Linked DNA regions of Homo sapiens. The protein of the gene in region 3 purifies or fractionates together with the protein of the main gene of each other region. This does not show direct contact. Each region holds a gene or a part of one and is shown on either strand. Other genes may lie near its edges.

Evidence for each region.
Region 1: the proteins of KLHDC8A (region 3) and TXNDC9 purify together in Homo sapiens (affinity purification with mass spectrometry; 2 studies listed by BioGRID and IntAct, with this or other methods). This does not show direct contact.
Region 2: the proteins of KLHDC8A (region 3) and CCT6B purify together in Homo sapiens (affinity purification with mass spectrometry; 2 studies listed by BioGRID and IntAct, with this or other methods). This does not show direct contact.
Region 4: the proteins of KLHDC8A (region 3) and LONP1 purify together in Homo sapiens (affinity purification with mass spectrometry; 2 studies listed by BioGRID and IntAct, with this or other methods). This does not show direct contact.

Annotation. Positions count from the first base shown.
Region 1 is NC_000002.12:99,327,015-99,334,835, reverse strand, and holds part of TXNDC9 (thioredoxin domain-containing protein 9), read left to right. Parts: intron 1-1,593; 5' UTR 1,594-1,625; coding exon 1,626-1,814; intron 1,815-7,182; coding exon 7,183-7,301; intron 7,302-7,821. UniProt on the Homo sapiens protein: Significantly diminishes the chaperonin TCP1 complex ATPase activity, thus negatively impacts protein folding, including that of actin or tubulin.
Region 2 is NC_000017.11:34,949,473-34,957,293, forward strand, and holds part of CCT6B (T-complex protein 1 subunit zeta-2), read right to left. Parts: intron 5,128-7,821; coding exon 4,954-5,127; intron 2,582-4,953; coding exon 2,478-2,581; intron 1-2,477. UniProt on the Homo sapiens protein: Component of the chaperonin-containing T-complex (TRiC), a molecular chaperone complex that assists the folding of proteins upon ATP hydrolysis.
Region 3 is NC_000001.11:205,335,300-205,341,801, forward strand, and holds the end of KLHDC8A (kelch domain-containing protein 8A), read right to left. Parts: intron 4,510-6,502; coding exon 4,345-4,509; intron 4,111-4,344; coding exon 3,895-4,110; intron 3,298-3,894; coding exon 3,196-3,297; intron 2,294-3,195; coding exon 2,100-2,293; 3' UTR 762-2,099; downstream 1-761.
Region 4 is NC_000019.10:5,695,302-5,703,122, forward strand, and holds part of LONP1 (lon protease homolog, mitochondrial isoform 1 precursor), read right to left. Parts: intron 5,627-7,821; coding exon 5,488-5,626; intron 3,905-5,487; coding exon 3,726-3,904; intron 1,457-3,725; coding exon 1,369-1,456; intron 1,071-1,368; coding exon 948-1,070; intron 870-947; coding exon 753-869; intron 1-752. UniProt on the Homo sapiens protein: ATP-dependent serine protease that mediates the selective degradation of misfolded, unassembled or oxidatively damaged polypeptides as well as certain short-lived regulatory proteins in the mitochondrial matrix.

The DNA.
Region 1 (7,821 bases), on a different chromosome or scaffold from region 3:
GGAGGCTGAGGCAGGAGAATGGCGTGAACCCAGGAGGCGGAGCTAGCAGTGAGCGGAGATGCGCCACTGCACTCCAGCCTGGGCGACAGAGCGAGACTCCGTCTCAAAAAAAAAAGTAAAATTTTGTACTAATTGCTAGTACAAAATACTCCATTTCTTTTAAAATATATAGTCATGTGCCACATAAGGACATTTCAGTTTTATGAGATTGTAATACTGTATTTATCGTACCTTTTCTATGTTTAGATACACAAATGCCATTATGTTACAGTTGTCTGCAGTATTCAGTACAGTAACATGCTGTACAGATTTGTAGCCTAGGAGTAATAGGCTGTATGGCATAGCCTAGGTGTGTAGCAGGCTGTACCATCTGGGTTTGTGTAAATAGTCTATAATGTTTGAAACAATATCAAAATCACCTAATGATGCATTTCTCAGAATGTATTCTCATTGTTTTGTGGGTTTTTGGTTTTTGGTTTTTGAGACAGGGTCTGGCTCTGTTGCCCAGGGTGGGGTGCAAGTGGTGCGTTCTCAGCCCACTGCAACCTCTGCCTCCTGGGCTCAAGGTATCCTCCTCCCACTTCAGCCTCCCTAGTAGCGGGGACTACAGGCACACACCACCGGGCCTGGCCAATTTTTCTATTTTTAGTAGAGACAGGGTTCCATCATGTTTCCCAGGCTGGTCTCAAACATCTGAACTCAAGTGATCTGCCCACCTTGGCCTCCCAAAGTGCTGGGATTACAGGCGTGAGCCATAGCACCCAGCCTAGAATATATTCCCATTGTTAAGTGATGCATGACTAATTGAGATAGGTCTTCCTTTCTAATCTGAATTAGTTCTATTTTGAAACTCTGATTTTACACAGAGGAGTGATGTTGGAAAAAAACCCAAAATTTAGAAAAGTATTTGGAGTGTTTTACATCAAAGTTAACACTGTCAGTAAATGGAAACCAGTATTAATTTTTGTGACCTCATAGACTTTTTTGTTAGGTAATGGGAGAACAGGAATGGACATTAATGCTCAGGGAACACCAGGCACTCTTCTTTACATAAATGGTAATGAGACGTCTTAGGAGTTAAATGAAACTCATTTGGGCAGCAGCCATGAAAAAAATCTGTGTTTTGCTCAACTGTACTCTGTGTTTAAGTAAAGTTTAATATATATATTTATGTGTAAAACCTCAGTAGGTATACCTTCCTATTGTTCGCAGTTGTTTCTGATTTCTCTTTCCCATTGGTAAAGAACACTGATTGTCAGTATATATCACTAGGTATAACTTCACAACTCATTTCTCTGTGGTTTGGTGATGGTCTTAAAGACTTGTCTTGGCTTTAGTATAGTAAAACATATGCTAAATCAGAAGCACCCTAAATTTGCTGTAAGTAGTTTTTGAGTGGTGTGACTAGAACCTACTGAGAATTAAATTTAAAAACACATAAAAATTGTTAAGCCCAGCATCAAGTGCTTGGATGTCGTTAGAATACTCCATAGAGTACACATTATACACTTGCCAGAATTTTTGAAAATGGTAGAGAAAACCTTGCTTATTGTTTGCATTTTTTAAAATGTATTTTGTAAATCTTCTCCCCAGCACCCAGGCTGAACTCTGTACCATTTGGAAGAATGGAAGCTGATGCATCTGTTGACATGTTTTCCAAAGTCCTGGAGCATCAGCTGCTTCAGACTACCAAACTGGTGGAAGAACATTTGGATTCTGAAATTCAAAAACTGGATCAGATGGATGAGGATGAATTGGAACGCCTTAAAGAAAAGAGACTCCAGGCACTAAGGAAAGCTCAACAGCAGAAACAAGTAACCTCTCTGCCCTGCTTTCTGAAATTGCTATAACAGTATGCGCCTAACAACTTATATATACATGTGCTGTAGTAGTTACATTTCGTTCTTTGTGTTTAGGGTTTTTAAAATTCAGAATACCTATTACTGTTAAAAATTTGCCCAGAAAAAAATATGTTTTAAAGACATTCAAAATTAGCCCAATCTCTATATTAATCCACAGTCGAGTAAAAGAAAGATCTGCCCAAGATCGTTTTTCTGAGCTTGGATTTGTTTGGTTGAATGGAGGGCTAGGGAGTCATTGGTTTCCATTTCAGGTAATATTAAAGCCGATTTAGCTATTTTCAAAGCAAACGAGATAAGACAGATGAGATAAGAGCAATTAAGTCAATTTATGTTGAAAAATGTATTTCAGGCATTTCCAATGAAATAATTATGTGGCATATTCAAAAGAATGCATGCTTTGTAACAAAGGTGGCCACAGCTCTATCGTTGTTGCCTCTTAGAATGTTTGTGTAGAATAAACGCAGAGTTGTAAACTCTGACTGAAACCAGTGGATTAAATTCTGTAAATTGAAATTTTTTTTTCTGCTTTTTGAGATGGAGTCTCGCTGTGACACCCTGGCTGGAGTACAGTGGTGTCATCTCAACTCACTGCAACCTCCGCTTCCCGGCTTCAAGCAATTATTCTGCCTCAGCCACCCGAGTAGCTGGGACTACAGGCGCACACCACCATGCCTGGCTAAGTTTTGTATTTTTAGTAGAGATGGGGTTTCGCCATGTTGGCTAGGCTGCCCTTGAACTTCTGACCTCAAGTGATCCGCCCACCTTAGCCTGCCAAAGTGATGGGATTACAAGCGTGAGCTACCGCACCTGGCCAAATTGAATTTTGATTAAAACATTTTTTCCACTGGGTTACATGGAAATACTTTATCACCAACTCTGGTTCCTTTTCAGTTGACTGTGACTTAAACATGAGGCTTAACTTTTCTGAAGAAATAGGGAGTTTTGACCGGGCATGGTGGTTCACATCTGTAATCCCAACACTTTGGGAGTCCAAGGTGAGCGGACAACCTGAGGTCGGGAGTTCAATACCAGCCTGGCCAACATGGTGAAACCCTGTCTCTACAAAAAATACAAAAATTAGCCAGGTGTGGTGGCGCACACCTGTAGTCCCAGCTACTCAGGAGGCTGAGGCAGGAGAATCTCTTGAACCCGGGAGGTGGAGGTTGCCGTGAGTCGAGATTGTGCTACTGCACTCCAGCCTGGATGATAGAGCAAGACCCAGTTCCCCCACAAAAAAAGAGAAGGAGTTTTGTTTGTATTGCTGTAGCATCACTTTGATATGTTTACACCCTCATGTTTAGAAGAGTTACTACAAAAGGAAATAATCTTTTATAAGTGAGTCCAAATTTTTATATTTTGAGTTTCTAAAATAGAGTACGTTATATGGCTTTTACCTGTACCCTACCGTATTTTAAAAAATAGGCTGCTTTTCTTTTTCTTTTCTTTCTTTTTTTTTTTTTTTTTGAGAGGGAGTCTCACTCTGTTGCCCATCCTGCCTTGACCTCTCAAGTAGCTGGGATTACAGGTGCCTGCCACCATGCCCAGCTGATTTTTGTACTTTAGTAGAGATGGGGTTTCATCATGTTGGTCAGGCTGGTCTCAAATTCCGACCTCAAATGATCCGCCTGCCTCAGCCTCCCAAAGTGCTGGGATTACAGGTGTGAGCCACCCCACACCAGGCCCAATTGGCTTCTTTTCATAGTATAGGGCTGATAATTAGTATGCAAAGGACGGATTATTGGAATTTAAGGTAATATATGTTTAGGTTCTGCCACAAACTCATATTTCATAGTCACATTTAAGTACTAATTGCTAATGTGCAACTAAAAATAATTATTTGTAACTAGGATATTTTTGTAGAGAGACTGAATTCACCTGATTTGCAGTGATGAACATACGTTAAATAATGTCTTAAAGGAACTTTTTGGCAGTTCAAAACAGTGGTCTGAATATAATTAAAACCAACTAAGGCAGACTGGCTATAAGCCTTTTTTATTATTAATGTATAAATCAATTTAAAATGAATTTGTCATCGAGTAATTCAGAGGGTCTTATTTTAGAACTTTCACTGCATTTTAGTAGGTCTTTTATTAAAATATTTTCTGGAAATAGTCAAGAAACCTAGTGATTTGTATAGATATTCTTTTTATAAGAGATTATACAGTAATTAGATTATGCAGTAATTTTGATTTTCTGATCCACGAGGGTATTGGGGAGATCATTGTATGCATTGACTTACAGTCGGCACTTAATAGACCTAGGTGAATCTATATTCTTCTGTCAGCCAAGCACCCTCCTACTGTTAACTAGAGCTGGCACACTTAGGTAGGGAGCAGAATAGAGGGATAAGGTAAGAAATAGGAGTTAAGCAGAGGCTTGGGTGACAGCCACTGACAGCCAGGTGCTGCCCAGCTGCCATGCCTCAGGTAGGCCCATCCTGCTTGATTCTGTTCTGCAGATACCTTAGGAGCACATGCTGTCCAAAAGGGGCTATGCTAAGAGCACAGGGGTGTAGTGAATGTGTCAGGAGAGGCCCTGAGCATTGGTAGAGGTTTGGAATGGGCACATCCTCCCTCAAAGGAGCCCAGGACAGGTTCGGGTCTTCAGCCTCTTGGTTAAATACCTGAGAATAAATAATGAAAAGAAATAGCAGCTTTTTTTTTTTTTTTTTTTTTTTTTTTTTGAGATAAGAGTCTTGCTCTGTTGCCCCGGCTGGAGTGCAGTGGCACAATCTCGGCTCACTGCAACCTCCACCTCCCAGGATCAAGCAATTCTTCTGCCTCAGCCTCCCAAGTAGCTGGGATTACAGACGCCTGCCACCATGCCCGGCTAATTTTTGTATTTTTAGTAGAGGTGGGGTTTCGCCATGTTGGCCAGGCTGGTCTTGAACTCCTGACCTCAGGTGATCCGCCCACCTCAGCCTCCCAAAGTGCTAGTATTACAGGCGTGAGCCACTGCGCCCGGCCTAGAAATAGCAGCTTTTTAAAAGACAAATACTTTTTTTTTTGAGACAGGGTCTTGCTCTGTCACCCAGGCTGGAGTGCAGTGGTGTGATCTTGGCTCACTGCAACCTCCGCCTTCGGAGTTCAAGCAATTATTGTGCCTCAGCCCCCGAGGAGCTGGGATTACAGGTGTGTGCCAACACACCTGGCTAATTTTCATATTTTTTGTAGAGACAGGGTTTCGCCGTGTTGCCCAGGCTGTTCTCAAACTCCTGTCCTCAAGTGATCCACCTGCCTCAGCCTCCCAAAGTGCTGAGATTACAGGTGTGAGCCACTGCGTCCAGCCTAACAAATACTTTTTAAGGGCACATATCATTGGTAAGTTGTGAAAGCAGTCATGAAATGTCATATGTCATTAGGGAATTGTATTTGAGAGTTAAACTGTGTGTAGAAATTTCACATAAGAAAATATCAGGGTATCCTGCAAGTGTCAGCTCGATGTAAATGGATGTGATTTTGACACCGCAGTCATCAATATAGTCTGGGCCACGTTCACTGACGTCCAGAGGAGGAAGGGAGATGGCCCTCCTGGCTCTTTGGTTGGACCCCTTCTGGAGGCTGGATTCAGACCTCTGTCACATTTTAAGAAGACATTGGTGAATTAGAGTGTGTTTAGTTGATATCCTGGAAGAGTAGGAACTCTAGAAATCTTTTCATATGAGAACAGTTAAAAGGAACTGGAAGTGTTCAGTGTGGAGAAGGGAAAACTTAGGCAATATGTGATGTTTGAAGGGCCCACGTGGGAAAGAGATTAAAACTTTAATCTTTATCCAAGCTGGAATCCACAGACCAGAATTATGGATATATTGCAGTTCAGTGTGAGATGACCTTTCTAACAATTAGTGCAGGTATAGAGACTTTTTAAGCATTTATAAAGTGGTTATCAAAAGCAGACAGGGCTCTTGAGCTTCAGAGCTGCAGTATCCTCCTTTTCTCCCCAAGACGAATTGGGTTTATCTCATAAGCATTATTTTTATTTTTATTTATTTTTGAGACAGAGTCTCACTCTGTTGCCCAGGCAGTGGCGTGATCTCAGCTCACTGCAACCTCTGCCTCCTGGGTTCAAGCAATTCTCCTGCCTCAGCCTCCCAAGTAGCTGGGATTACAGGCGCCTACCACCACAGCTAGGTAATTTCTTGTATTTTTTTTTTTTTTTTAAGTAGAGACGGGGTTTCACCATGTTGGCGAGGCTAGTCTGGAACTCCTGACCTCAGGTGATCCAGCCGCCTCAGCCTCCCAAGGTGCTGGGATTACAGGCATCAGCCACTGCACCCAGCCTCATGAGCATTATTTTTAAAAGACTTGTAGTAACTTGGATCAAATGCTTCTGGTTTTAGTAGTTTAAGAGTACATGGATAGAGTTAAGTGGATATTTACATTCTGAGTCTCTCAAGTCTAAATTTTTATTTTGAAAGTTCTGAGAAAATAGATGTTTTAAGCTACAAAGACAGGTAATTGTCTTGAACCCAGGCCATGCTGTGGAGACGTTCACTGTCCGTAGACTAGTTTTGCATTGACAGTAGAAACAGGAAAGTAAATTGCTAAAAAACATTCATTTTTCTTTGACTTCAGCCAGGCACAGTGGCTCATGCCTATAACCCCAGCACTTTTGGAGGACAAGGTGGGAGGATTGCTTGAACCGAGGAGTTTGACACCAGCCTGGGCGATATAGTAAAAACCCCGTCTCTACCAAAAAAAAAAAAAAAAAATGCCAGGCGTGGTGTGGCATGCGCCAGTGGTCCCAATTCCTTGGGAGACTGACGTAGGAGGATCTCTTGAGCCCAGGAGGTTTGAGGCTGCAGTGAGCTATGATCATGCCACCACACTCCATCCTGGGCAACTTTAGCAAGACCCATTCTCAAAAAAAAAATAAATAAATAACACTTTTGGGCCGGGCGCGGTGGCTCACACCTATAATCCCAGCACTTTGGGAAGCCGAGGCAGGCGGATCACAAGGTCAAGAGATCGAGACCATCCTGGCCAACATGGTGAAAACCCATCTCTGCTAAAAATACAAAAAGTAGCTGGACATACTGGTGCCCGCCTGTAGTCCCAGCTACTCGGGAGGCTGAAGCAGGAGAATTGCTTGAACCCAGGAGGCGGAGGTTGCAGTGAGCCAAGATCGCGCCACTGCCCTCCAGCCTGGTGACAGAGCAAGACTCCGTCTCAAAAAAAAAAAACAAAAACAAACAAAAAAAAAACTTTTTTTTTTAATTGACTTCATTACAAAATACGATGGTGATTTGGACACTTAAAATGTCAAGTGGTTCTGAAAGAGATATCTCACATGTGTAATGTTTTGCCTCTCTCCAAATTAGGAATGGCTTTCTAAAGGACATGGGGAATACAGAGAAATCCCTAGTGAAAGAGACTTTTTTCAAGAAGTCAAGGAGAGTGAAAATGTGGTTTGCCATTTCTACAGAGACTCCACATTCAGGTAACTTTGTTTCCATCTGTGACTTTTTCTAAAAAAACACAGTGAATTGTTTGGCTGGAGATATACTGGCTTACTAGAGAAATGAAGAAAACTAAAAGAAAAAACTTCCTAAGTTGTTTCATTGTACTCTCTCATATGTTATTTAGTATTAAGTTAAGCAGGCAGGGGCCCAGTGACTCAAGCCTGCAATCTCAGCACTTTGGGAGGCCAAGTGGGGGGTGGATCACTTGAGGTCAGGAGTTCAAGACCAGCCTGGCCAACATGGCGAAACCCTGCCTCTACTAAAACTACAAAATTAGCCGGGTGTGGTGGCAGGTACCTGTAGTCTCAGCTACTGGGGAGGCTGAGGTGGGAGAATTGCTTGAACCCAGGAGACAGAGGTTGCAGTGAGCGGAGATCGCGACACTGCACTTCAGCTCGAGCGATAGAGTGAGACTCCATCTCAAAAAAGAAAGAAAAAAAAAGTTAATTGTTATTTTAAAGAGTAACTTAAAGAACAGTTACATGCAAAAGTATAAAT
Region 2 (7,821 bases), on a different chromosome or scaffold from region 3:
AGAAAGGAAAGGAAAGGGAGGGAGGGAAGAAGGAAGGAGGGAGGGAGGGAGGGAAAGGAAGGAAGGAAGGCAGGAAGGAAGGAAGCTAGCTAGCTGGTACAACAGCTTTTAACATGTAAAGATTTTTTAAATATAATTATCAATATCAGATAAATTATACTTTTAAAGACATTACTAGAAAAAAGTCACTTCATATCAGTACAAAAGTTCAATGCACCAGAAAATATGTAACAGTTTAAAAACTATGCATCTAAAAAGATTGTCTCAAGATATATAAAGCAAAACTCTCAAAACTAAAGTAAAATATAAACAGGTACAAAATAATATTGAAAGATATTTATACATTTCACTCAGTAATTGACAGAATAAGCAGTCAAAACATCAATAAGGATATAGAAGTTCTGAACAACAGGATTAACAGGATACCTTGATCTTAATGGACATGTATATAAAATTGTACCTACCAACTGCAGCATACATTCTTTTCAAGTACATGAAACATTAACATAACAAAAGCTGACTATACACTGAGCCATAAAGCAAGTGTCAACAAATTTCAAAGGAGCAAAAATCTCATAGAGCATATTCTCTGACCACAATGTAATTAAGCTAGGTATCAGTAATAAGATAACTAAAATTTCCCCATGTTAAGAAACACACTTCTAGTTGAAATTAGAAAATATTTTAAACTGAATAAAAATCATAAGATTACATATCAAAACTTGAAGGATGCAGCTGAATAGTACTTTGAGAAAAATTTAAGGTCTTAAGTACTGTATTCAAAAGCAGGAGACTGAAAATTAATAACCTAAGTAGCTATCACAATAAAACAGAAGCAGCAAAAAAGTCCCCACAAAATTCCAAAAAAGTAAATTAAATAATAAAGAGAAAGACACTGTGAAATGAAAACAAACCTCTGGGAAAAAATTATCACAACAAGGAAAGAAAGGCATAAATAACACCAGAAATAAATGGTGATACCACTACAGATCCTGCAAACAGGATCCTTATAAAAATTTTATGCCAGTAAGGATATTTATGAACACTTTATACCAAAAATTTCAGAGTTAAACAAAATGGACAAATTTCTAAGAAAACATTACTTACCAAAATGATTCAAAAAATAAGTAGAAAACCTAATTAGTCCTATAGCCATTAAGAAAATTGCATGAGTGGGGCCGGGCGTGGTGGCTCACGCCTTTAATCCCAGCACTTTGGAAGGCCGAGGCGGGTGGATCACAAGGTGAGGAGTTCGAGACCAGCCTGGCCAACATGGTGAAACCCCGTCTCTACTAAAATACAAAAAATTAGGCAGGCGTGGTGCCACACACCTGTAGTCCCAGCTACTCAGAAGGCTGAGGCAGGGGAATCACTTGAACCCAGTAGGCGGAGGTTGCAGTGAGCCAAGATCACGCCATTGCACTCCAGCCTGGGGGACAGAGTGAGACTCCATCTCAAAAAAAAAAAAAAGAAGAAGAAGAAGAAGAAAATTGCATGAGTAATCAAAAATCTTCCCACAAAAACTCTTCAAGACAAATAATCAGACTTTTCCAAAATAATTATCAAGGTGAAAAACAATGAGAGGAAGAAAGAACCTACAAATTAACAAATTAACAGAGACTAAAAGAGATATCACCTAAGTGCACTATACAGACTGTGCGTAGATCTTAATCCAAACAAAACTGAAAAAAATCTGAGACAACTGTTAGACAAATTAGACTATAAACTGGAAATGTGATAGTATTAATGAGTTATTCATTTTTAAGGTGTTATAATGTTTTGTGGATATATTAGGTAAAAGCAGGGGGTTTATGTTTTATGGATTATATGATATTTACAGGTGGTATATGATGTCTGGATTTGCTTCAAAATAATCCTAGGTGGGAGGGGGAAAGAGGGAAGGGTATGCTTCATATGTTAGAAATTGATAAAGATAGCTAACAGTTATGTGGAAATTCCCTATTCTGTTCTCTCTATATATGTTCACAGTTTTCTATAATACAAAGTTTTAAAAGAGTAAATCCAAAATCAACATGGTACTCCATAATCTGGTCCCTTTTGCCTCACCTCCTCTCCCTGTGCTCCAGGCACACTGTAACAACCTAGTCACACTTCTGCCTCAGGACCCTTTCAGAGGTCATTCCTTCTGCTTAGAACCCTCTTATTCCAGATGTGCACATGGCTAGCTCCCTTGTTTCTTCAGAGACCTCTTAGCTCTCCAGGTTCTTATCAGAGTAGTCTTCCCTGTCCACTATAAAATCACACACATGATTTTTTTTCTATTTCAATTAGAAACATAAACTTCTTGGGGAAAGAAATTCTGTTCTGTTTACTCTCATTCCCATTACCTAGAGCAGTGACTTAATATATGGTGAATGAATATATTTATGTTGAATAAAAGTAAGTAATGAATTTAATAAAAGAATATCTTTAAAAAATTCTAGAACCCATATGTTGTCAAAGCTTATGTAATTTACTTTGTATCTGTTCCTAATTTATGCTTCATCTCCATTATTTCTACCATGAAGAGATCAATAGGGTAACCTGGTCTTCTAACAGCCAAAACAGAATCCACCACAACCTGAAAGAGAAATGAATGAGAACAGTTAAGTTATTTGGACTACTAAAATAAACCAAGGGCCCAAACAATCTATCACCAGACTAAGGAGATAAAAGCCTTCAGGATTCAAAACCTAGGGCAAGACCAATATGTGCCACTTTACTATGGATGCTAACAATAGCCAATGCCAACAGACACTTTAGAGTCTAAAGAAACTTCAGAGATCATTAGGTCCAAACCTTTTATTTTACAGATAAGGCAACTGAGATAAGACCTTAAGAAGTCACAGTTTTTAAATAAGATCTAACAGCTAGTAACAGGGCCGGGACTAGAATTCAGGGCTCCCTAACTGCCCAGCGACTACTCTTTCTATCATACCAAGACTATCCAAACTTTTCCACCAAAGGACACCTTAATGGAAAAGAAGGAAAGGTAATCTAAGGTAATAGCTCCAATTTGCTGGCTGTAATAACAGGAAACGTTAAAGTCTCATGTTTTATCGTGAAAAGTTTCCATGTCATCCCATAATATGTTTATCTCAATGTAAAAATAATGTTTTCCCCCAAAATTGTAAAGTAAAATTGACACTCCAGAAAGCTACGTCTCATTTATTCTGTCACATATGACCAGGGATATACAATTTAAGAAGCATAGCACAACACGTCTTATTGCTTAGCTCAGAAAATGATATAAAAATAATAAATAACTGCAGAAATTAAGGGCTAAGTTATAACTACCCTAAAATATACATAAAGCAGAAAAAACTGTATCTTAGAAAACTTTGCCTGAGGTGACATAATATTTTATTTTAGAGGCAAATAAGAAATAGGACAAAGGCCATTGGATAGTGAGAATATCACTGTTTCTGTAACTCTAAAACAGAATGGGTGCCCTAGCAGCATGAAGATTTGGGGCCATTCAAGTACTCTAACAGCAGAAAACACAGCAGAGCCTTTCTTCTGACTCTGCTCATCAAGAAATTGTCTGATCTTAATCTGATTTCCCAAGTTGTTTTTTTTTAACGGTAAGGAGAATCGATCAGAAACAACTCAAGTATTCCAGTACATTTGGCATTTGTAGTTCTCAAAGTAAATTATTAAGGTAGTATTCTGCTTTGTATGTCAATGTCTTGTGAATTTGTTTCCTAAGAATTTATCATTCTTCCTGGTAAACAAATATATTCAAGTTTCAGAAATTACAAAGCTGAAAAACAATAATGATATCAAATCATTGCCACCTGATAAAAGCCTTCCCAAAATATCCAGCCAATCTTGTCTTTATATAAAATATATATATATATATATATATATTTTTTTGAGACAAAGTTTCACTCTGTCACCCAGGCTAGAGTGCAATGGCATGATGTCAGCTCACTGCAACCTCCCCCTCCCTCCCAGAGTGATTCTCCTGCCTTAGCCTCCCAAGTAGCTGGGATTACAGGTGCCTGCTAACATGCCCAGCTAATTTTTGTATTTTGAGTACAGACAGGATTTCACCATGTTGGCCAGGCTGGTCTCAAACTCCTGACCTCAGGTCGTCTCCCCACCTCGGCCTCCTAAAGTGCTGGGATTACAAGCATGAGCCACCATGCCCAGCCTATATAACATATATTCTACCTTTAGAAATAAACAAAACACTGGCCAGATGTGGTGACTTCATGCCTGTAATCCCAGCACTTTGGAAGCCCGAGGTGGGTGTATCATTTGAGGTCAGGAGTTCAAGACAAGCTTTGGTAACATAGTGAGACCCCATCTCTACTAAAAATACAGAAATTAGCCAGGCGTGGTGGCACGCGCCTGTAATCCCAGCTACTCGGGAGGCTGATGTAGGAGAATCGTTTGAACCTGGGAGACGGGGGTTGCAGTGAGCTGAGATCATGACACTGCACTCCAGCCTGAGTGACAGAGTAAGACTCTGTCTCAAATAAATTAATAAAAGAAATAAACTAAACAAACATACATTTCCAATATGTGAATATTAATATATTAATATATCATATCACATTTCATTATATTGGTAACCTTATCTACAAGGTACACTGCTAAAACAACTATCTTGTGTGTCACCTCACATAATAAAATATGGACTGCTAGATTTAAAAAGACCAGTATACTATTCAAGAGCTTCCACAGGAGATGATCTGCAGGCAGCCAAACCTCTCCCACCTTTCAAGTCACGTTTAAAAAAAGGCCTAGTATGATACTTCTGAAAATTACAAATACTGTTCTGACCAGTCAAATCTAATCTACAGTTAGGCCTATACAATAATTGTCTGTCTTCCATATTTTATGCCCAAAAAACCACATGAAATACTTGATTATCTTACAGAAAAAGAAAAATATCACCATGCATTAGGCTATATTTGTTCTGAATGCAAAAGTTTAATAACATACCTCTGTTAAGACATCAGCCAGTTCAGCATGAACTTTAGTTTGTAATGATGTTCTAGCTACATCTAAGAGGATTTTTCTTTTCATCTCCTTTGTCACTTTAACTTCCTCCAAAACTTCAAGTGCTTTTATCTTTGCAGCTTCAAATCCTTCAGCTATTATTCTAGGGTGCAGGCCCTGTTACATCAACATAAAATTATAAATTATAAAATAAGTCACCCAATGTAAAAGTAACCAACCTGTCTGATTATTATGTTCAAAAAAAGTTACTCACATTAATGCCATGAAATATAAGTGTACATAATTTATAAAAGTCATTTTAGTGCTTCATACTTGAAATAATCTCAACCTTAACAGTAAGGCTTCAAGTCTAGTATTAAAAATTACAGAAGTCCTTTTTATTTCCAAAAATTATGACTACATTGTTGTTATGTGGTGCCCTTCTGAATGGGCACACATAAAAAGATTCCTTTCAATGCAGAGGAAAAGAACCACCACTGAATTGGGGAAAAGTGGCAGATAGAACACTGTGGTGTCTACCACTTCACCAAGTGATCAAAGTTAACATCACAATAATGAGACAGACAGGCATCACATGCCTGCTGACATGATGCATTCAGTAGAACACAACAGTTCTATGGTATTTTGGCCAACAATCTGTAACCTAAGTTTAATTGAGGAAATAGGCAAATCCACACTGAGGGACTTTCTACAAAATAAATGGCTTAAAAGTAGCAATATCATGAAGCATAAAAGGCAGCTCAGGAACTAGTCTAGCTTAAAGGATACTAAAGGAACACGACAACTGAGTGCAATGCATGAACTTAGATCTTTTTTTTCTATAAAGAGCACTATTAATATAAGTGGTGAAGTTTGAATAGAATGCAGATTAGATAACAGTAATGTATCAATGTGTTAATGTTATTATTAATTTCCTGGTTTTTATAACTATACTGCAATTATATAATTCCCTGGTTTTAAGAAATATACACTGAAATATTTAGATCATGTCTGCAACATACAGTTTAGAAAAGAATAAGTACACTGATACTAAGGAAGAGAACAGGGCAAGCAGGCAATGAGAGAAATGAAAATGCTTGAAGAATCTGGGTAAAAAGTATACAGGAATTCTTTGTAGTATGTTTGCAACTTTTCTATAGGTCTAAAATTATGAAAAAATATTTTAATAGTATTTTTTGTTCCATAAAATAATACACAAACTTTGTGAAAGCTAGCACTTGGTCTAATTCATTCCCTTACTACTTTTCTTTACATCAATCCTTAATAATCTTTAAAAGTTGACATTGAGTATTTGTGCTGGACATGACTAAGAGTTTTACACAAGTTATTTAATTCTCTAGCCACATCATGAAGTGGGTATTATTATTATTATTTTTCCTATTTCACAGATGAGAAGACCGAGGCTTAAAGGGATAATGTAATTTGCCTTAGATCACCAAGATAATAAGAAGTGAAACCAGGTTGTTTAAACCCATGAGACCTGACTTTAGAGCCTATGTTATTAACCATTTTCAAAAATGTCTTCAAGCTAGGACCCCACAATCTCTCATCCAGACTATCATGAAAACCTCTGGTCTAGACTCCCTTAAAACCATCCCCCAAATACTTAAAATGCCAACCTGACCATATCAGTCATTAGTATGTTTCTATGTTTGGTCTGTAATACCACTGGATGAAATCTAAGCTTCTTGGTTAGCATACTACATGCCCTCTGATCTGGCTCCCACTTCCCTCTCCAGCCTCTTCTCCACTACTGTTCACATCACCTGAAATTCCAGCAACACCAAAATGCTTGTAGCTTCATACAACACCATGTTGCTTGTCTTCTCTGTGACTTTGCTTATGTTGTTCCTTCTGCCTGGAAAGCCATTCTCCTCACCCCTTGCTCTTTTGTCTGGTTCACTCCTCCTCATCCTGAAGATTTAGGCCAGGCCTTACTTCCTCCAGAGAGTTCTTCCTGACTACTTCAGGCTAGTTTAGGACGTCCCTCCAGCCTCAGTGATTCCATCATATACTGTGCCCGGCTCTATCACTGCACCACCACAGAGTTTCATAATGTCTGTTAGCATCTCACCCTTGCCAAACTCCTTTCTTCCTAACCCAACCCTAATTCAGTTTGGGTTTCCCTCTCCCACTTGTGCTTTGGAGAAAGCTGATCTTATCCCCAGCTCAAGGAGTGGATCCTGATTAGTCTAAGTCAATTCCCATAAAAACTGTTACTGGCTTGGGATGGACATAATACTAAAGTTGGCCCAATCATACTAAAGAAAAGCCTCCTGAATGGCTTTATCTTGCCCTCTGCCTAATTTCCTCTGACAGTCTTTCTTCGCTCTCCTCTGTCCTCTCTCTCCTCTCTCCTCTCTTCTCTCTCTCTCTTTCTTTTAGAGACTGGGTCTCACTCTGTCACCCAGGCTGGAGTACACTGGTGCAATCATGGCTTACTGCGGCCTCCACCTCCTGGGTTCAGGCAATCCTCCTGCCTCAGCCTCCCAAGTAGCCAGGACCACATGCAGCATGCCACCAAGCCTAATTTTTTTTTATTATTTCTAAAGACAGGGTCTCACTATGTTGCCCAGGCTGGTCTCAAATTCCTGGGCTCAAGTGATCCTCCTGCCTCAGCCTCCCAAAGTGCTGGGATTACAAGCATGAGCCACTGTGCCCAGCCAGTCTTACTTTCTTTTTCTTTCCTTTTTCTTTCCATTTTTTTTTTTTTTTTTTGAGATGGAGTTTCACTCTTGTTGCCCAGGCTAGAGTATGATGGCACAATCTTGGCTCACTGCAATCTCCACCTCCTGGGTTCAAGCAATTCTCCTGCCTCAGCCTCCTGAGTAGCTGGGATCACAGGCGTGC
Region 3 (6,502 bases):
CTAGCACTTTGGGAGTCCGAGGCAGGAGGATTGCTTGAGTCTAGGGCCAGTTACTTGGGAGGCTGGGGTGGGAGGATTGCTTGAGCCCAGGCGGAGAGTGCAGTGAACCCTGATCGCACCACTGCACTCCAGCCTGGGCAACAGAGCAAGACCCTGTCTCAAAAAAAAAAAAGCTCAGCCCTATCCATGCATATGGGACCACTTTGTGTGCTTGGAAATGCCCCCTCCCATAAGGCTTGGGTTTCTCTTGCAAGGGGTGGAGGCACTCCAGTTGCTAAACACCTTTCTTGGGTAGGGGATTGAGGAGACAGGATGCCTTTGGAAGAGCATCCCCTAATGCACAGTTCCATCATCCCTTATAGTATCTGCAGCTCCTCCAGCTCCTGTTTCTATCTGTTACTTCAGGGGCTGAACTCAAATATAGGGATCCAGAAGCAGCAGGGGAGGCCTCTCTGCAGTCTCCTCACTAGGGGGCAGCAGCGGCTACGGGAGGCCTCCCAGCCCTGGGAGGGGGAAGGGAAATGCTGGGCCAGCAGGTGGCAGTGCCCTTCTTGGACCCAAGTAAGGAAAAAGTCCAAGTACCCAGAGAAAGGGAGGGGAAAAAAATCCGTATCCTGTAAAGACCCAGGTTCCACTTGTCCTTGAAGATCCCGCTGAAGGTGTCACACTCCCTCCCTCCAGGAGGCTCCCTGGACCCCTCAGATCCAGATAGGTGATCCTCCTCCATTCCTGCCTCCTGGAGAAAGAATTACACTATCACCTGATGAGTGATACCTGACTCCTCCAGAACCCTTCAGGGCAGGCATTTTATTCATCATTTATTTTAAAAATAACTGGGAGTCAGAAACAGATGCTAAGAGGAGGCACATTCTTCAAGTTTTCTAAAAGAACCCTTTCTACTTTGGATAGGACAAAAATGAGCTTTGGCTGAATGAACTGAGACTAGACATAAGAAGGACTGAGCTGCTGATGAGTTATGAATGGAAGACTAACACGCAGTCTCAAGGCAGGAGAAGAAGAACATGTGCTGTTTTCCTGGGAGTGGGGCAACTGGTGGTGGCTGTGAGAAGGCAGAGCTCTTCAGAGGGGACAGCCAAGAACAGGTAGTCACTGGGGGCCCTATTTAGCCTGAGAATGCAGGAGGGATTGTTTTATGGGGTCCTCCCTGCCCCTCAAGACACCCTTCCGCCCCATCCCCACACCAGGGTGCTAGAGAAGATAGGAATATAGATTTTAATCATTGTGCTGCTGCTATTAACCAGAGTGCAATTAATCCATCTTTTGTGGATTTTGATGCCACAGTGTAAATGAGAGGGTTTCACACAGAAACACTCTGGGGGCCTTCGGTGACAAAAGGGCTAGGCCTCTGGTGGGGAGGGGGTGGCAAAAGGTGAAGTGGAATTAGGAGAGATGTGGGGAGCAGACCCAGGGCTGGGAGACTGCTCCTTCCCCATCACACATGCCCATCAAGGACCCCAAGAGGAAGGGATTCTTCCTGCCATGGCCTGGGCTGTCCAAGTGAGCCTGACTTCCCTTCCAAGGCAGCTGCCTCTAGCTTCATGTCCAATTCTCGCTGAGTAGATGAGGTCCAGGGTAGGCCCACAGTTGACCACCAAATGGTGAAGAGATATAAGCCAAGGGAGAAGAAAGTGGTTTGGAACCCCCAATCATTCTCCATTTTTCATCCTAAGCTACCTTAAAACTAGTTCAGAGCTGGGGAAAGACAGCAACAGCAGTCTATCCTCTCGGTCAGAACTGCTCTACCTGCCTCCTGGAGATGGGGGTGGGGGGAGGTGGGACTCACAGGAGGGAGAGGTAGGAAATATTCCTGTGCCTTTCTTTGCCTGTGCAGTAAGTGAAGACTCTCTTCAGAGTCAGCTCTGCAGCTGGTGGAGTCATCTGTGCCTCTTACAGTTTTCTGAGATTGGTAGGATTTGGAGCTATAGAGAGGTCAACTTAGAGCCCCAAGGCCAGACTCCACTGGTTGCTAACAGGAGCTGACATTCTTGGAAGTAGCCCCGACTGCTTGGACAAGATCATTCCTCATGTTAAGAGTGAAGTGATATGGTCCAGGGCAAAGGTACTGAGCCCAGAGACAGCTAGGAGTCAGAGACACACAGGGCCTCCACTGCGTCACTCAGACCCTGGTTGACACCTCCCACGGCGAGGAGGCAGTTCTTGACGACTATGCTGGAGCAGGCACAGCGGGGTGTGGGCATGGCAGGGAGGATCTCCCATTTGTTCTTCCCTGGGTGGAATGCTTCCGCCGTCTCCAGGACAGTGGGTTGATTCCCTGAAAGTGTCAAGGGAATCAGACCTTACAAAGGAGTCCAACCACCAATCCATGCCCCACGGTCACCCCACCTCCCTCCCTTCGGCACCCACAAGCAGAAGCCAAGCAAGGTCAACTTCCTTGGCTACAGGATTACTCCCTTTACTAAGCCAGTGGCTTTTGTCAAGCAGCCACTTTGTCCCTCCTACCGTCTTCCTGTCTCTTTAAGAGTAAGCTTTCTTTCCCTACCCATTGCTTTTTACCAGAGCTTTCTAGCACACTACTGCCTCACTGCTGCCCTTTCCTAAAAAAGCTACTGACATGGTCTAGTTGACACGGTTCCTTCATGCCTGAGTAAAGTGGGAGTTTGTCCACACTAAGTAGACTTGGGGTACCTGGAAGCCCTGCTGCCTGGATCTCTCTTCCTTGATGATGGGGAACTTCTCGCTTTAGAGTCCCTCCTTCAAAATACTAGTAATCTCTGGCAGAGTTAATACATCAAACCCAAGATTCATCTGTTGAACTTATTTAATCAGATTGCTTTCCTGTTCCACGATTGGGCTGGAACAGGATAAGAGACTGGTCAGAGGAGGACCAAGGCTAATCCCCTCCACAGTTTGTCTCCAGTCATTCCCGTTTAGGGATCTGTGCTCAGTAAGCCTGTGCTGCACGGCTACGGGTGTCCCTTATTCTCTCTGCGTCACAGTTTCCCTGTGTAGGAGGACAGAAAGGCCACACCTGGGGCCCACAGTGGATAGGTAATATCTAGGCTGGAAGAAAGGGAGTGCTTCGAATTTTTTGGAGTATAGTGGTAGGCAGGTGGTCTGCAGGGAGTCAGTACCCTTTCCTGCATATGCAAAGTGCCAAGGATCCACTGAGCACCAGAACCACAATAAATTCCAGCGTGAAAGCGCCATCCTTACCAAGTCCCCCAGCCACTATGACCCGTCCACTCAGAGAGCCAGCCACAAAATCTGCCCGCCGCTTCTTGAGGAAGAACGATCGTTCCATCTTCAGCCATCCCCCTATAGGCCATGGATAATGGTGGGTTATATAGACAGAATAAGATACAGACCACTCCCACCAAATGCAGATTGTGGCCCAAATAGCTTTCACCCTGGGCAGTGTCTTCACTCTATTTATCCTTTATGCTTGGGGAGTACACAGTTCCTCCTGCTGTTTCAAATTCTCTGTGGCTTCCCCCTCTCCCATGCTTGCTGCTCTGTAAGGCATCATCATCCCCTACAATGAATCACCTTGACTTCTGGTTAGGAGGCTAATAGAGGCAGTGAGGGAGGAGTCAGGATCCTTCTGTTTCTCCATCAGTAAAAAGTAAGAAAAATCCCTCTCTGACCTGGTCCTGTGTGAATATTGTAAGAAAAGACAATATAGGTAGAAAAGGGGCTTTGATAAAAACCAACCAAGCAAAAAGGGGACCTATACCAATGAAGGAATTTGATTCCAAGAGTAGCCCTGAGTGGAGAGGGGTGCTGAGACTTCTGAGAAGCTTGCCCAGCTGGGTAAACGGCCCTGGAAGATGGCTGGAATAGGGGTAAGGGATGGGGAGCCAGCCAGAAGGGCAGTGGGCAGCCAGAGCTTCCTGGGGAAGGTGACCAGCTCACCCTGTTCCATGTCGAACACGTCCATCGTCCGCAGGAACTTGGGCTGCCGGTAGAGGCGACCTTGCCGCAGGCCTCCTAGGCTGTACAAGTGGTTGTCCAGGGTCACAAAGCTGGAGAAGGCCCGCTTATAGGGAATGTTGGGAAACTTGGTCCAGGAGCGAGTCTCGATGTCAAAGACCTCGAAAGCGTTGACCGCGTACTTGGACTGTCGTCCCCCTGGGGGCCAGAGCAGGATAGAGGTTGGGCAGAAGGGTTGTCCCTGAGGACAGCGACAGTGAAAAGGGTTTCCCCTTTTGACAGTTACTCATTCATACAGGAAGCTCCCGGTGGGCTGGGCAGTGTGATTATCCCCAGTGCCGAGGAGATGCTCAGCACACAGGCACTGCTTCCTATGGGAACTGAGCCAAGGGAAGGAAGGAGGGTAGGTATAGAACAGTAACCTGTCCTTACCCAGCACGTAGATCTTGGAGCCTCGGAGGAAGGAGGTGGCAGCATATCTCGGGGTGGGCATGGGTGCTAGGGACACCCACATGTCCTTCAGCATGTCATAGTGTTGGAGGTGGTTGTGTGGACGTAGGTCCAGGCCCATCCCGCCTGCCGCATATACTCGGTAATCTAAGAAGAAAGGCCATACATGCCCCTGGCTTAGCTCACAGGTACAGCAAGACAGGCCCACCAGCATCTATTGCCTCCCATGGCCAGGCCAAGCTTTCAACCACTGCTCAGCCAGAGTGAGTCATATCTGTATCAGTGTGGTTGATAGCACCATTCAAAGAAGTTCCTGCTATAGCTAAGCCTGAGAGTCTGTTTCTTTTTTTTTATTTTTATTATTATTATTTTTTTAGATATGGTCTCATTCTGTCATCCAGGCTGGAGTGTGGCATAATCATGGTTCACTGCAACCTTGACCTCCTGGGCTCAAGAGATCTTCCCATCTCAGCCTCCCAAGTAGCTGGGACTACAGGTCCATGCCACCACACCTGACTAATTTTTGTATTTTTTGTAGAGACAGGGTTTTGTCATGTTGCCCAGGCTGGTCTCGAACTCCGGGGCTCAAGCAATCCTCTTGCCTCGACCTTCCAAAGTGCTGGGATTGCAGGTGTGAGCGACTGTGCCCAGCTGCCTGGGTCTTTTGAAGCCATGGTACGACTACACGCCCTAGTCTTCCTTAGTGTCCAGCCCTTTGGCTAAGCCTGAAACACTGCGTGAAGTTTAGGCCTGGAAAACCCTTTGCAGGTCTTATCCCCTTCACTGTCCTCCCTGGGCAGCCAGAGGGGAAGCCAAAGAGGAGAGGTATTCTTTTTTTTTTGAGACAGAGTCTTGTTTTGTTGCCCAGGCTGGAGTGCAATGGTGTGATCTCAGCTCACTGCAACCTCTGCCTCTCGGGTTCAAGCGATTCTCCTGCCTCAGCCTCCAGAGTAGCTGGGATTACAGATGCCTGCCACCACACCTGGTATTTTTAGTAGAGACGGGGTTTCACCGTGTTGGCCAGGCTGGTCTCAAACTCCTGACCTCAGGTGATCCACCTGCCTTGGCCTCCCAAAGTGTTGAGAATACAGGCATGAGCCACCACGCCTGGCTTCAATGAGTAGAGATATTCTTCTGATGCCCTTTCCCCAGGCATTCACAAACTGGCATTTTTAGATATGGCAGGGGCCTTTAGAAATAAGATGAGTCATGCTGTCACTGGCCTATGGGACACTGGACTGCTGCTGGTTCTGTGTCTGCCAGCCCCATTGGGGAATGCCATCTTCCTTCACAAATTGGGAAACTTGTGGGATCCAGGAGTCACTTCAACTAAATGAGATAGGGCTAGGGGTGAATGAGGGTGAAGCTTTGGAGAGAGTACTGGTCCCTTTAAGAAACCCTGCCCAGGAAGTGAGCTGGGATACTTTGAGAAGTGAGTCTCCTCTCATTCTCTACTACTCTTGACTGTAGGTGGCCTTTCAAAGGACTTCACTACACCAGAGAGGATGGGCAAGGCATCTGTGTTTCCCTGGGTCCCACCCCAGGACCTCCCAGGCCTCTCTTTCTCAGGGAGCCACCCCTGCCCGGGATTCTGTCTGCCAGCAGCCAGTCCTCAATGCTTCTGGCTCCAGGAGGCCTTTATTCTTAAGGTGATTGTAGGGATGAGTACTATTTCCTCCTACTTTCCAATCTTATTGGAAAAAAAAAAAATGCCAACCCTAGCCTGAGGCTGGAAGACGGTGCCTGCTAATGAGGAATTCACCTTGCACAAGATCCACCCCTCCCATCCTGTGTTACTTGAAACTCCTCCTCCTGGGAATCCTCCCATCCACTCCTCACTACTGTTTTTGTGCCCAATTCTTACTCATCCTTTCAGACCCATCTGGGCGTCCCTGAACTACAAGCCTGGGTCGACAGCACCGGCTCAGTGCCTTCTGTTACCCTATTCCATCACCCTAATTGCCACCTGTTACTGAATAATCTTTGTTTCTTTTTCTTTTTTTTTTTGATACGGAGTCTTGCTCTGTCACCCAGGCTGGAGTGCAGTGGCGCGATCTCGGCTCACTGCAAGCTCTGCCTCCCAGGTTCACGCCATTCTCCTGCCTCAGCCTCCCGAGTAGCTGGGACTACAGGCGCCCGC
Region 4 (7,821 bases), on a different chromosome or scaffold from region 3:
AATTCTTGCCACAGTTCTGAGCTCTAATGGCATGGGGGAGGGCATCTGTGAGACGGACAGAGCCATGCAAGCCACTCTACATCTGCCACTGATACTGGGGGGCACTCCTGATGCCCTGAGGGGTCCCCATGCCCCCCAGTCCTGTCCCCAGGAACTACAGGCCCGTCCCTTGGAGAAGTCAGGCTGGGAACTGGGCCCAGCAGTGGGCATTGAAGCCCCCAGGGGACACGAGGATGCTGGGAGGGCCTCAAGGGCAGGGACCAGTGCCCACCACTGGCTGTCAAAGGGCTCCTAGGGGAGAAATGCACTCAGCACCTTTGCAGAAAAAAAAACACATGAGAAATATGGGCCCCTGCATGCTCCTCACTGAAACCACTTCTCCTCCAAGCCTCATTCTGGGTGGGAGCCACAGGCCCCACTGCTTCCGGCTGCCAGAAACCTTCCCTACACTCTGGGCCAGGTGGGGGCCCCACCATGGGGCAGCCTGGAGGCCCCGGGAGACAGAGTGTGTGGCCTGACGGTGGTGGGCGGTGTTTTGGACAGTCCCAGGCCCTAAACCCTGCGCCCACTCGCGCCACCTGCAGCTGCTCGCAAGCGTCTGGTGTGTCTCTCACGGCCCCATCTGCTCCTCGGCCGCAGGTCCCACCTGTCTCTCCCGGGCCCAGGAGCTCCCAGAGGCACGGCCTCTGCAGGCTCTGGGGGGCGCCCCCTGCTCTGGGAAGGGGACAGCAGTGGGGAGGGGCTGGGCTTACCTCCGCAATGGCCAGCTTCTCCTGGGCCACGTAGCCCGACACGTTGATCATCTCCATACGGTCTCGCAGCGGCTCGGGGATGGTGTCCGTGACGTTGGCCGTGCAGATGAACAGCACCTGGGGGCGGCGGCAAGGTGCTGGGGGACTGGCCGCTTACCCTCCCCAGCAAGCCCAGGCCCCAGACAGGCCCCCCACCTTGGACAAGTCCACGGGCACGTCCAGGTAGTGGTCCAGGAAGTTGGCATTCTGCTCTGGGTCCAGCAGCTCCAGCAGTGCCGACGACGGGTCCCCCTGGTAGCCTCGGCCGATCTTGTCCACCTGGGGCAGCAGACAGCAGGTGGTGCCCCTCGCCGTGCCCCTGGCCAGCCCGCCCAGTGGGGAGACCCCAGGGTCAGGGCTGGGGAGACCCCGAGTGAGAGCGGCACCCACACCCTGCCTTGGACGGGCAGCCTGCTGGGCGTGGCTGTGGGTGGGAGGGACCCGTCCGTGCCATCAGGGCCAGCATCACGGCGATGGCCCCTGAGTTGGCTCGGGGATCCTAGGACCCGGAAGGCTCGGCTTCATCTTGCACACGGCATTGCCGGGTTAGGGGGTCTCCGGGCCTCTCCGCACGCACCTCGTCGATGAGGATCAGGGGGTTCTCCGTCTTGGTCTTCTTCAAACACTGGATGATCTTCCCGGGCATGGCGCCCACGTAGGTCCGCCTGTGGGTGCACAGCGGGGTCAGAGGTCACTTGGTAGCCTGGCTCGGCCACAACGACACCATGCACCCTCCAGGGCCACAGGGGAGAGGCCACCTGGAGCCCCACAAGATGTGGCCATGATGTGGGAGGCGGAAATGCTGGCAGCCGCCGGATGTGTGGCACCTGCAGGCACGCTGGTCACTTGCCCTGACTCGCCAGCTCAGATTCTGGGGTCACTGATTCAAAGCCAGATCTCCCTCAGTCCCATCCCTCAGCTGACACCATGGTGAAAGCCAGACAGGCGCTGGCAGCAGAAGGCCCCCACTCCTCACTGAGGGACGCCAGGCACGCCTCAGCCCTCAAGGGCTGGGGTGATACTAGCCATGGCCAGCACTGGCTCTCAGGAGGGCTTCCTGCAAGCTCTGTGCTCTGCCCCAGCACAGGGGCCCGGCCCGCGACAGGGACAGAAGAATCCCAGGCCCCACGAGAGACAGTGAGGAAGGCTCTGTCTGTGGGATGAAGACACAGGGAGGCAGGGATGGAGGGACTGAGATGCCACTGGGATGTGTGTGACACTTTAAGTGTGCAGGGGGGTAAGGAGTGTCTTAGGGAGAGGCCCCGAGCAACGCACGTGAGGAGAGAGCCACGTGAGGGTCTGAGAGATGTGTTCCAGGCCCAGGACACAGCCCGTGCAAAGGCCCTGAAACAGGACCACGCCTGGTGTGTTAGAAGAACAGTGAGGAGGCCATGAGGCTGAGGCAGAGGGAGGAGGGGGGGAGAGAAGAGGGAGGAGAGGGGGAAGAGGGAGGAGATGGAGAGGGAAGGGGGTAGAGGGAGGGGGAGGAAGAAGAGAGGGAGAGAGAGGAGGGGGTGGGGCAGGTCATGCGGGGTCCTGTGGGCTGCAGTGAGAACTTGGGCTTTGACCGAGGAACGTGGGAGCCCTGGAGAGCTGGGGGCAAAGGAGGGTTTTGCTGCTGTTAATAACAACGATCCATCGCCCCGCAGCCAGTCTCCTGTCCTTGTCCTTGTCTCAGGAACCCAGAGACGTCAGCAGACGCCTGCCCTCCCCGCAGCCCCGCTACCTGGTGACTCCCTCCCAAGGCCAGAGGTGACCCAGGCTTGTTCAGAACCCCGCCAGGGTCTCTCCTCCGGCCCGCACCTCCAGCCATCCCTGAACCAGGCTCCAAGAGGCTTCGCGACCACTTCAAACCGCTTGCCCAGGAAGGACTGGGTGCCCCCCACCCCCACCCCTCCACCTTCACCCAGCTGCTCCTTCCTGCTCAGACCCCAGCCCAACCAAGGGCCTGCAGAACAGGTCCCCTGTCCTCCCCCTCACACCCCCCACCCCCTAGTCAATCTGGGACTCCCCAAAGCTGCACTGGCCCCACCTCCTCCAGCTCCTCCCAACTCCCGGCTGGTCAGAGTGGCCGCCCCCTGGGGACTGGACACTGCGCGGGCCAGCATGCTGTCACCCTTGCAGCGGGCGGGCAGATGCTAGGAAGGCCTGAGCCGGGAGGTCGGGAGCTGGGGATGTTTTTAGAGAAGGCAGAAATGTTCACTTTAAACCTGGACTCAAGTGAATGCCTTGCAGGATGGAAACACGTGGTGGACTCAGCAGATGCCTCACACTCGGCTCTCACTGAGGCTACGGTTTCCAAAGAACCGCTGTCTACAGAGGCTGGCGAGGAGGGAAGCCCCAGAAAAGCCGCGCCCGGCTGCCCACCCAAAGGGTCAGGTGGGAGGGCGCTGAACTCTGAGGGCCGTGGCCCCTGCTTCTGGGCCTGAGGCTGGCCGGGACGAGTGAGCCCACAGAGGCGCCAAGGTTTCTCTGGTGTGCGCGGCCCGGTCCTCACTGGAGACCGTCTCTCCTGACTCCAGCCCACAGGCTTCGGGGTGGGGGGTGGAGCCGACCCCACCCCTAGTCCTGGGGCATCAGCCACAGCCCACATAGACCAGCATCTGCACGGCAAACGCCGGCCCTGCAGCTCTGGCCCGGGCATTGCAGGTCCTATGCTGGAACTACCGGGGGTGTCTGCTGAGGGCCGGCCCGAGAAGTCTCTCTCCCAGGGGTCAAGCCATGGAGGTTCCTGCCAGCGCTGTTTGAGCACCTGGAATCAGCTGGGCCTGAAGTCCGCCACATGGCTGGACTTTTCAGTTACTCCAGCATGAGTGGAATCGGTTGCCCACAACCCGGATTGCTCTACCAGATGTTAAAGGGTGACCGGAGAAGACGAAGCCCGGCAGCACAGCTGAGGGGAGTGCGTGGGGAGAGCTGTCAGGCCAGGCCTACCTGTGGCCCTTGATCTCAGCCACGTCAGTCATGCCCCCGACGCTGAAGCGGAAGTACTCTCGGTTCAGGGCGCGGGCGATGGAGCGAGCAATGCTGGTCTTACCCACGCCAGGGGGGCCATAGAAGCAGAGGATCTTGCCCTGGGTGGAGCCGCGGAGCTGGCTAACGGCAATGAACTCCTGCAGACAGAGGCAGGTTCAGTGGGCACGTGAGCTGGGGAAGCCGGGGACCCGCGCATGACTCTCGCCACCTGCACACTGCCTTTCAGACGTCTGAGGGCTGCGAGAAGGGACCAGGATTGTCCGGGAGGCTGAGCACATCAGAGCTGCCACTGGCCACGGGGAGGGGCAGCCTGTGACAAGGGCTCCATTTAACAATTTAACACCAAAGGACAACTAGGTGCTAGGAGACCGCGGCCACCCGGCAGTGCCAGGCCCGTTCAGCAGTTCCCGGGACCCTGAAGACCGCAAATGCTCCACTCTCTCCGGTCCAACCCAGAGAAGCAGTCCACCAATGCCTCTGGCTCCTGTTTTTTTTTTTTTTTTTTTTGAGATGGAGTCTTGCTCTGTGGCCCAGGCTAGAGTGTACTGGTGCGATCTCATCTCACTGCAACCTCAGCCTCCTGGGTTCAAGCAATTCTCCTGCCTCAGCCTCCTGAGTAGCTGGGATTACAGGTGTGAGTCACCATGCCTGGCTACTTTTTTTGTATTTTTAGTAGAGGCGAGGTTTCACCATGTTGGTCAGGCTGGTCTCGAACTCCTGACCTTGTGATCCACCCGCCTCGGCCTCCCCAAGTGCTGGGATTACAGGTGTGAGCCACCATGCCCAGGCTCTGACTCCTGTTTTTTAACCTTTGACTCCCACCTGCCTGCCTGGTTTCCAATGTCTCAGGAGTGATATTTTAAAAATTAATTTAAAATTAATTAATTTTCAGACAAGGTCTCGCTCTGTCACCCAGGCTGGAGTGTAGTGGTGCATCACAGCTCACTGCAGCCTCCACCTCCCGGGCTCAAGCAGTCCTCCCACCTCAGCCTCCCAAGTAGCTGGGACTGCAGACACGCAACATCACACCAGGCTAATTAAAAAAAATTTTTTTTCCTTTTTGAGACGGAGTTTCACTCTTGTTGCCCAGGCTGGAGTGCAATGGCACGATCTGGGCTCACTGCAACCTCTGGCTCCTGGGTTCAAGCGATTCTCCTGCCTCAGCCTCCCAAGTAGCTGGGATTACAGGCATGCGCCACCACGCCTAACTAATTTTGTATTTTTAGTATAGATGGGGTTTCTCCATGTTGGTCAGGCTGGTCTTCAACTCCCGACCTCAGGTGATCTGCATGCCTCAGCCTCCCAAAGTGCTGGGATTACAGGCATGAGCCACAGCGCCCAGCCGCAATTTTAAAATTTTTTGTAGAGATGGGGGTCTCACTCTGTCACCCAACCTGATGTGCAGTGGCATGATCACAGCTCACCACAGCCTCAACTTCCTGGGCTCAAGTGATCCTCCCGCCTCAGCCTCCTGAGTAACTGGGACTACAAGCAGCCCCACCATGCCCGGCCCGTCAGGCATGACTTCAGTCCACCTGGGAAATCCTCGAGCCCTCGGGGGCAGGGCAGGATGCTACCTCCGCCGGGATCCCCCCGACCAGCACCCCCAGGCCTACGAATTCACCAGGGGGCTCCTTTGAAATCTCAACCCACAGCACACAAGAGTCCTGGGCCCGGGCACCCACATGCAAATCCACAACAGGCCAGACACTGGGCTCACCAGGATGCGTTTCTTGACGTCCTCCATGCCGTAGTGGTCTTCCTCCAGCACTGCCTGTGCCCGCGCCAGGTCCAGGTTCTCGTTGCTGTACTTGCCCCAAGGGATGGACGTGAGCCAGTCTAGGTAGTTGCGGGTGACACTGCCAGGGGACAGATGGAGAGATGCTGAGTGGAGCTCACGAGCTGCCTGTCTCTCTGCTGGACTTGGCTGGGTGGTTGCAAGGGGCTTGAAACCCATGTGTGGGGCTGAGCGCGGTGGCTCACGCCTGTAATCCCAGCTCTTTGGGAGGCCCAGGTGGGAGGATCACTTGAGCCCAGGAGTTCAAGACCAGCCTGAGCAACTCAGCAAGACCCCATCTCTATAAAACAATTTACAGGCCAGGCACAGTGGCTCACGCCTGTAATCCCAGAATTTTGGGAGGCCGAGGCAGGCGGATCACAAGGTCAGGAGATCGAGACCATCCTGGCTAGCACGGTGAAACCCTGTCTCTACTAAAAATACAAAAAATGCTTCTGCCTCTGCCTCTGCCCTCTGCCTCTCCCCTTTCCACGGTCTCCCCTTTCCCTCTTTCCATGGTCTCCCTCTGATGCCGAGCCGAGGCTGGACTGTGTGCTGCCATCTTGGCTCACTGCAACCTCCCTGCCTGGTTCTCCTGCCTGAGCCTGCCGAGTGCCTGCGATTGCAGGCGCGCGCCGCCACGCCTGACTGGTTTTCCTATTTTTTTGGTGGAGACGGGGTTTCACTGTGTTGGCCGGGCTGGTCTCCAGGTCCTAACCGCGAGTGGTCCGCCGGCCTCGGCCTCCCGAGGTGCCGGGATTGCAGACGGAGTCTCGTTCACTCAGTGCTCAATGGTGCCCAGGCTGGAGTGCAGTGGCGTGATCTCGGCTCGCTACAACCTCCACCTCCCAGCCGCCTGCCTTAGCCTCCCAAAGTGCCGAGATTGCAGCCTCTGCCCGGCCGCCACCCTGTCTGGGAAGTGAGGAGCGTCTCTGCCTGGCCGCCCATCGTCTGGGATGTGAGGAGCCCCTCTGCCTGGCTGCCCAGTCTGGAAGGTGAGGAGCGTCTCTGCCCGGCCGCCCATCATCTGAGATGTGGGGAGCGCCTCTGCCCCGCCGCCCTGTCTGGGATATGAGGAGCGCCTCTGCCCGGCCGCGACCCCGTCTGGGAGGGGAAGAGCGTCTCTGCCCGGCAGCCCTGAGAAGTGAGGAGACCCTCTGCCTGGCAACCGACCCGTCTGAGAAGTGAGGAGCGTCTCCGCCCAGCAGCCACCCCGTCCGGGAGGGAGGTGGGGGGGTCAGCCCCCCACCCGGCCAGCCGCCCCGTCCGGGAGGTGAGGGGCGCCTCTGCCCGGCCGCCCCTACTGGGAAGTGAGGAGCCCCTCTGCCCGGCCAGCCGCCCCCTCCGGGAGGGAGGAGTGGGGGTCAGCCCCCCGCCCGGCTAGCCGCCCCGTCTGGGAGGGAGGTTGGGGGGGGGGTCAGCCCCCCACCAGGCCAGCTGCCCCATCCGGGAGGGAGGTGGAGGCGTCAGCCCCCCGCCCAGCCAGCCGCCCCGTCCGGGAGGGAGGTGGGGGGGTCAGCCCCCCGCCCGGCCAGCCGCCCCGTCCGGGAGGTGAGGGGCGCCTCTGCCCGGCCGCCCCTACTGGGAAGTGAGGAGCCCCTCTGCCTGGCCAGCCGCCCCCTCTGGGAGGGAGGAGTGGGGGTCAGCCCCCCGCCCGGCCAGCCGCCCCATCTGGGAGGTGTACCCAACAGCTCATTGAGAACGGGCCATGATGACAATGGCAGTTTTGTGGAATAGAAAAGGGGGAAAGGATTGAGAAATCGGATGGTTGCCGTGTCTGTGTAGAAAGAAGTAGACATGAGAGACTTTTCATTTTGTTCTGTACTAAGAAAAATTCTTCTGCCTTGGGATCCTGTTGATCGGTGACCTTACCCCCAACCCTGTGCTCTCTGAAACATGTGCTGTGTCCACTCAGGGTTAAATGGATTAAGGGCGGTGCAAGATGTGCTTTGTTAAACAGATGCTTGAAGGCAGCATGCTGGTTAAGAGTCATCACCACTCCCTAATCTCAAGTACCCAGGGACACAAACACTGCGGAAGGCCGCAGGGTCCTCTGCCTAGGAAAACCAGAGACCCTTGTTCACTTGTTTATCTGCTGACCCTCCCTCCACTATTGTCCTATGACCCTGCCAAATCCCCCTCTGCGAGAAACACCCAAGAATGATCAATAAAAAAAAAAAAAAAAATTAGCTGGGCGTGGCAGCGGACACCTGTAGTTCCAGCTACTCGGGAGGCTGAGGCAGGAGAATGGCATGAACCCGAGAGGCGGAGCTTGCA